Homo sapiens: one gene and its partner. The protein of the gene in region 1 purifies or fractionates together with the protein of each later gene. This does not show direct contact. Each region holds a gene or a part of one and is shown on either strand. Other genes may lie near its edges.

Region 1 (4,320 bases):
TCCTCAAAGAATCAAAAGCAGATTGGGGCATGGTAGCTCATGCCTGTAATCCCAGCAATTTGGAAGGCCAAGGCAGGAAGACTGCCTGAGCCCAGAAATTCAAGACCAGCCTGGGCAATACGGTGAGACCCTATGTCTTTAAAAAGAGAGAAAAAAAAAAGACTGGGCGTGGTGGCTTGCGCCTGTAATCCCAACACTTTGGGAGGCTGAGGCAGGCGGATCACCTGAGGTCACGAGTTTGAGACCAGCCTGGCCAACATGGTGAAACCCTGTCTTTATTAAAACTACAAAAATTAGCCAGGCATAGTGGTGCATGCCTGTAGTCCCAGCTACTCAGGAGGTTGAGGCAGAAGAACTGCTTGAACCCGGGAGGCAGAGGTTGCAGTGAGTGGAGATTGTGCCACTACACTCCGGCCTGGGTGACAAAAGCAAGATTCTGTCTCAAAAAAGCTGGGTGTGATGGCATGCACATATAATCCCAGTTACCCAGGAGGCTGAGGTGGGAGGACTGCTTGAGCCCAGGAGGCCGAGGCTGCAGTGAGCTATGATTATGCCACTGCCCTCCAGCCTGGGCTCAAGACCCTATCTCAAAAGAAAAAAGAATCAAAAGTAATTCCCTTAAAGTTTATAGGCTGTACTATTCACAACAGCAAAGACATCTAATCAACCTAAATGCGCATCAATGAAGGACTGGATAAAGAAAACGTGGTACATATATACCATGGAATACTATGCAGCCATAAAAAAGAATGAGATCATGTCCTTTGCGAGGACCTGAATGGAGTTTGAGGGCATTATCTTTAGCAAACTAACACAAGAACAGAAAACCAAATACTGCATGTTCTCACTTATAAGTTAAATGATGAGAACACATGGTCACATAGAGGGGATCAACACACTGGGGCCTATTGAAGGGTGGAGGATGGGAGGAGGGAGAGGAGCAGGAAAAATAACTGATGAGTACTAGGCTTAATATCTAGGTGATGTACAACAAACCGCCATGACACAAGTTTTTTTTTTTTTTTTTGAGACAGTCTTGCTCTGTCGCCCAGGCTGGAGTGCAGTGGCACGATCTCGGCTCACTGCAAGCTCTGCCTCCCAGGTTCACACCATTCTCCTGCCTCAGCCTCCTGAGTAGCTGGGACTACAGGCGCCCGCCACCATGCCCGGCTAATTTTTTTATTTTTTTAGTAGAGACGGGGTTTCAGCGTGTTAGCCAGGATGGTCTCAATCTCCTGACCTCGTGATCCGCCTGCCTCGGCCTCCCAAAGTGCTGGGATTACAGGCGTGAGCCACTGCGCGCTTGGCCTCATGACACAAGTTTACCTACGTAACAAACCTGCACACGTACCCCTGAACTTAAAAGTTAAAAAAAAAATTAAAAAAGAAACATCATATTGTTAAAAAAAAAAAAAGTTCAGAGGCTGTGAACTGGCATCTCCTTGGGCAACTGGAACATTTAACATGACTTGTATAGAATTTTAAAAATCAAAGGGCTGGGCACGGTGGCTCATGCCTATAATCCCAGCACTTTGGAGAGCCGAGGTGGGCGGGTCACCTGAGGTCAGGAGTTCAAGACCAGCCTGGCGAATGTGGTGAAACCCTGTCTCTACAAAAATTAGCCAGGCATGATGGCAGGTGCCTGTAATCCTAGCTACTCAAGAGGCCAAGGTAAGAGAATCGCTTGAACCCGGGAGGCGGAGGTTGTAGTAAGCCAAGATCGCGCCATTGCACTGCAGCCTGGGGTGAGAGAGTGAGAACTCTGTCTCAAAAAAAAAAAAAAGAAGAAAAAAAAAAAAGAATTAAAAAAATTTTCCAGCCTATTTTGACAAAATCAGGAGCTATGGCAGCAATGACTGTTTATTACTGAATGGCAACAAATGGCTGGAGCTGGGTTGCTACCACATCTGTTCTAGTTTGCCACAGTCCTCTCCGCTTCTTAATATTTCAAATCTAGATTGCTTCACTTATTTGTAAGACCTGAATGACCTCTGTAAGCTTTTGGTTTGTAATCCTGTAAATCAGCAACCTAATGGTAACAAAGCTACCATTTCACTGGGTTCCTAGCCTGCCACTTTACAGAGACTGTCTCAGTTATTTCTTACCATATCTTTTGAAGGTAGGCATTATTATTATCCATGTTTGATTGCTGAGGATCACATGAACCCAAGTCACACAGTCAGTCTGCATGACTATATCTATCAACTCCCAAGTTCTCTATCTGTGCTAGTTTGCCTCTGGTTATGATTTTCTTCATTTCATTTAACAAACACTTATAGTACAGTTACTAAATTAATAAGTTTACAAATATCACCTTGCTCATCTAAATAACAATCCTGTAAGAACAAAGATCTGTAAGAAATTGCCTTTTTTGCAAATCAATATTACAGATGTTGGCAATTTCATATGGTTCAACTTAATGCTTATTATTATCCCCATTTTATAAAAGGGGAAACAGCCACAGAAAATTAAGTAACTTGTCCAGAGCCAAGCTCAGACTAAAACCCAACAGGCTGGTTCGAGTTTTGTTCCTGACCAGCATATTCAGCTGCCTCTCATCACAAAAGGGAACTTTACACATTGTGGCAGCATCAGATTATCAAACAGGTAAAGTTTTGGACTGATGCTTCTCCTGGAGGCTACCTCAAAGTACTGAGGCCAGAGACATATTTGTGTCCCCCAGGATGACCCCTACCTGCACTGGTCCATTCATGAGACTTTCCCAGTGCTGGGGTGAGATGTACTTCTGCAGGTACTGTTCCCGTAGGACACCACGCATGGTGCACTCCAGGGTCTTGGCTCCTTCATGAAGCTCTTGCTCTGACTCCTTCATCTGTGTCATGATCTTCCAAGAACAGAGGGAAAGAAATGATGAGGAAATATCATCATCCCCCAAACTCAGTCCTCACCTTGAGGGAAAGCAAAGCTAAGACAGGAACAGTAAGGAGGGAGAATAAATAAATAGACTGGTCAACAAACCAATTTCCCAAGGCACATTATTGTGGTCTTGAAACCAAAGAACTAGTATCGGTTGAGTGTGGTGGCTCATGCCTGTAATACCAGCATTTTAGGAGGCCAAGGCAGGTGGATCACTTGAGGTCTGTAGTTCAAGACCAGCCTGGCCAACATGGCAAAACACTGTCTCTACTAAAAATGCAAAAATTAGCCAGGCGTGGTGGCAGGTTGAATATCCCTTATCCAAAATGCTTGGGACTAGAAGTGTTTCAGATTTTGGAATATTTGCGTTTATACTTACTGGTTGAGCATTGCAAATCTGGAAATCCAAAATGTGAAATAATGTTGGGCCGGGCGCGGTGGCTCACGCCTGTAATCCCAGCACTTTGGGAGGCCGAGGCGGGTGGACCATGAGGTCAAGAGATCGAGACCAGCCTGGCCAACATGGTGAAATCTTGTCTCTACTAAAAATACAAAAATTAGCCAGGTGTGATGGCGGGCGCCTGTAATCCCAGCTACTCAGGAGGCTGAGGCAAGAGAATCGCTTGAACCTAGGAGGTGGAGGTTGCAGTGAGCCGAGATTGTGCCACTGCACTCCAGCCTGGGTGACTGAGCAAGACCCTGTCTCAAAAAAAGAAATAATGTTGGCACTCAGAAAGTTTTGGATTTGGATTTTCCAATTTGAGATGCTCAACCTACACAACAGAAAAACAAACAGGCCAAGAATACTGTGGGAGAGACTTCAAGGCTCACAATATCTGTTCTCTCTCTTTTCCTTAGTAATAAGAACTCAGATTTTTGACTGGGCACATTGCTGCCCAGCTAAAAGATGACATTTCCCTGGTCAGTTGGCTGTACACAGAGGTGCTGTGGGTGGTATGGGGGAAGGAGCGTTAAGGTAGGGTGGGGATGGGCAGTGTTTCCTTGTCTTTTCTCCATCTTGGATTGTGAAGGCAAAGGTCATACCAAGGGATTGGCAGAATAGAATGCTGAAAGGAACCTGGGTCCTCCAGAGCTTTGAGGAGCCTCCAAATCTACCCTGGGCTGCCTACCCAGAAAGCCACTGCTATCTTGTTTAGGTCCCTCTTGAACTACCCCAGATATTTCAGAGCTGGGACTTACACTCATGTAGGCCCTTCGGAGGTGCATGGGGAGGTTGCGGCGGAATTCCCGCTTGTTCCTCAGCTCCCTTAGGGTGAACTGCTTCAGGATTTCACTGTTGCTCCTTCCACCCACCCGCACAATGCTGGTCTTCTGACAATTGTAGATGCCTGTGGAACAAAGTGGAGCATGGCAGGGTTGAGAGGAGCTTATGCTAGGTTCTCTCAGGTGAGAGCTGTGTGTATTTGGGATCTAGTCTGGTCC
Region 2 (3,717 bases), on another chromosome or scaffold:
TAAGATCCCTCATAAATGACTATGTTATAGCTGAGACCTGCAGCGGAACTCCCACCACCAAATGTTGTGGTAGTGTAAGGACCATTGTTATTTTCACTTGCAAATATTCCTGATAGGTCATATTTTAAGCTGCTAAAAACTGATACAAGCTGTTCATTCTTTCAGGGATAAGGTGACAACCAGCAAGAGAAAAAAACAAGGTAATGCACTTGAGACAGTAAGGTAGGCTCTCGGAAAAGGAGGGCTGTGGTGATCAGAGCCCACGGACGTCCAAAAATGTGACTTGGCTGGGCCTAAAAGAGGGGAGCGGCTCTTCTAAAAACAAAATCACCCCCTGGAAATTATGTTGGTTGGTTCCTTGGGGCATTGAACGGTTCTTTTTCAAGTTATTTACTTGCTCGTTACCGCCAGTCCCAGCTTTCTTGGGAGACCTAAACATATTTGGGGAATGGAAATAATGTGCTTGCTGCCACAGACCAGGCCAGTAAGATGAGAAGATAAAGAGTTTCTAGAGTTTTTATTATTCAAAATGAGTTTCATTTCAATTCAGGTACTTGAAAGAAGGTTCTAGTCTGTTACTTTGACACAGCACAAGATCAGTAGTTTATTCCAATGAAGTATTCCACCCAAATGAAAGCATAACATGCAAGTAGTTATTTATTTCAATCACTCCTATTTGAAGGTCCTCATTTTTGGAGAACAGCCAGGCATTTTATTATCCACTCTTTCCATTCCTTAAAGGCTTCCACGGGTTTCGGTAAATTCCCATTATCCTCGTGACTGTGTTCTGGAGTTGCTCCAGGTGTGTCAGAAGATTCATCATCAATCCACCTCACCAGTGCCTGGAAAAACATGAAAGATGCGCACTTCAACAAACCACAGCAAAATACCATCAGGCAAGAGAGAAGCATTGGCTTCTAGATCATAGGGTGACATATTACCCCATGAAGACGCTGCATTTGATAATGATGGTGTGAATATGAAATAATGCTAATGATATACTGAGTGAAATGGCACGTACCAAATACACACAGAATTACAAATGATGTCAAAAGTACGCACTGAAAAAAGATGAAAAAGAAATACACTCATTCTTACACTTTGTTTCTAGCATAATAGGATGTTATTTTTTCTCAACTTGCTAAATATTCCACAAGGCATTATATTACTTTGACATGTACGTATATACATATATAAGTGTCCACACAGGCATGGGTAGACATATGTATGTGAAAACACATGTGTAGACATTTCTGTGCAGTCACCTGAATGCAGTCATACCCATGAGTAGACACATGAATGTATATTGATGTTTGTGGGCAAGTGTGGGCACACACACACACATACTGAGATTAGGTACTTTCCTTCTTCCTTTTTAAAGAAAATCATTTTTTTCCTCCTAATGAACATCATACCTCTGTCCCATATTTGGAAAGGTAAATCCTGTCCACACACTTATAGGGTTTAAAAAATGAACTCTGCCACACATATCAATATTTATTCTGTTCTGCAAAGTCAAGCTCTCTTGCCCTAAATGGAAGAGAAGCAAAGAAACTTCTTCCACTATTTCTCATTGAACTGTAAGCATAAATCACTCAAAGGCAAGCTGAAGTTTTTAAGAAGAGCATTTCTTCACATTTTTAAACCGCAGCTTCCTGCTTATCTTTACACTAATTTCCTCTGATAAATTATAACTCCAGAGAAGGATATAATAGAAACATGGGTTTGCTACTCAGATAACCACTTCCCCCTCTTTAGACTGTCCACCCCCCAACTTACTTTGTATCTTTCTACAATGCTGAAGCCAACAGCACACTGCAACTTGTGCAAACAGATAGGGCAAAGGTTTAGAGGGCGCCGGTCAGCTTCTTCCAAGTGGTTGGAGCCTTGCATGAGGCATGCAAGCCACTGGCAGTGTCGCAGTCCAAATATGTGTCCGATCTCATGGGTTAAAGTCTGCAAGACAATCATGTTGAGGCTTTATAAGACCACCATCACATTAGGCTACACGTCTCTTCTTTTTCTTGCTTTTCCAAGAAACATAGGAATCAACTCCCTTACCATTACCACCAAAACTTCACCCTGTCCAGACCTTCAAAGACTTAATAATCCCTCATTTCCCCAAATGTCTTACTGCCTTTCTTGCTATAGACTTCCTCAACCTCAACATCGCTGACATGTTGGACCGATAATACCAGGTTGTGGGAGGCTGTCCTGTGCACTGTGCGATGCTTTGCAGCATCCCTGGCTCTACCCACTAGAGGCCAACAGAACTCCCTCCCTGATTGTGAAAATCAAAAATGTCTCCAGACGTTGCTAATATTCCCTGGATGGCAAAATCACCCCTGGCTGAGAACCCTTGATCTACACTAGGGTACTTGTTGTAATTCTGATTCTGGGGCTCTTCCCCTAGAGATGCTGATTTCAGTAGGTCTGGGAGAAAGGGGGCTTGATCTGCATGCTAATGAGAACATCAGGTGGCAATGACACAGGGGGCCCATGAAACACACTGTGAGAATGTAGTTCTCAGAGGTGTAGCTGTCAAACCCCAACAAATAGTACAGGTAAAAGCAGAATTTCTCTAGCTGAAGGAAAAGCCCATCTCTCTGGCTATGGAGAAAGGGGAGATAGGCTTTCCACAAAACCGAGTTGGGGATATCAGGAACTGCCAGGACAACTACAGTCGAGGGTAACCTGGAGCCCAGGGCAGGAAGGCCCAGGCTCCCAGAGAGGCCAGAGCAGAGGTTCTCCAAAGGCCTGGGGAAAGCAGCTTTGCCCAATGACCACAGTAGCTTGAAAAAGTAGGTTACCCACTCATACCAGAATTCAGAATTACACTAATAGCACATGGGTACAGCCAAGGCTGTAACTAGTAGTACAGAAAAACTGGCACTGATATTGTAAATTTCAATATGAAGGTATCCATTTAAATTGTTTTACTGATCATTTCAGTCAAGCACTATGCACCAAAATTATACAAATGATACAAACTCATTTATAATATTACCTTACGGACTGACAATATACAGTTTACGGAACTAAGATCTCTTTTAAAGAACTGTCCTGTCAGATTTTTGTAATAACTTACCTTACAGGATCGAAGTAGTAAAACACTAGTTATTTCTGGAATATAATAGTTGTCGAAAATTGAATAGTCACTTGAAGATGTTTTCTTGAGCTTCTTCACTTTGCCTTTATAGTGCATGCTATAAAAATCACTGCCATACCTGGCAAAGCTGAATATCCCCACACCTACAAAAAAAGGACAAACAGTGACAGAATGAGAGTAAGGTCCCTGAAGAAAGACCAAAGAAAGAAGAGACTGCTGGCCCATCTGGCCAGTGAGTGCATCTCTGTGTCACTGTGTCCACACCATCTGATACACTTATGGTTTGCCACCAAAAAGGAAGACTTTTGCCCCAGATTTCCCTATCAAAATCTTTTGCTGCTATCCACTTTGCCTTGCCTTGTAAAACTTAATGGACTTGAGGTCAAATGCTTGAGAAACTGAAGTTTCAGAGAGTCTTTTCCCACAAAAGAAGTCTTTTTCTGAAAGTAGCAAGTACTCCAAATCAAGTACTCAAAAAGGAATCATAAAAAATAACCACATGGGTTGGGCGTGGTGGCTCACGATTGTAATCCTAGGACTTTGGGAGGCCGAGGCAGGTGGATCACCTGATGTCAGAAGCTCAAGACCAGCCTGGCTAACATGGTGAA

The links.
Region 2: the proteins of ZNFX1 (region 1) and AMZ2 purify together in Homo sapiens (affinity purification with mass spectrometry; one large-scale study listed by BioGRID and IntAct). This does not show direct contact.

What each region holds. Positions count from the first base shown.
Region 1 is NC_000020.11:49,260,639-49,264,958, forward strand, and holds part of ZNFX1 (NFX1-type zinc finger-containing protein 1), read right to left. Parts: intron 4,227-4,320; coding exon 4,078-4,226; intron 2,846-4,077; coding exon 2,696-2,845; intron 1-2,695.
Region 2 is NC_000017.11:68,253,939-68,257,655, reverse strand, and holds the end of AMZ2 (archaemetzincin-2), read right to left. Parts: intron 3,253-3,717; coding exon 3,089-3,252; intron 1,957-3,088; coding exon 1,780-1,956; intron 843-1,779; coding exon 687-842; 3' UTR 501-686; downstream 1-500. UniProt on the Homo sapiens protein: Probable zinc metalloprotease.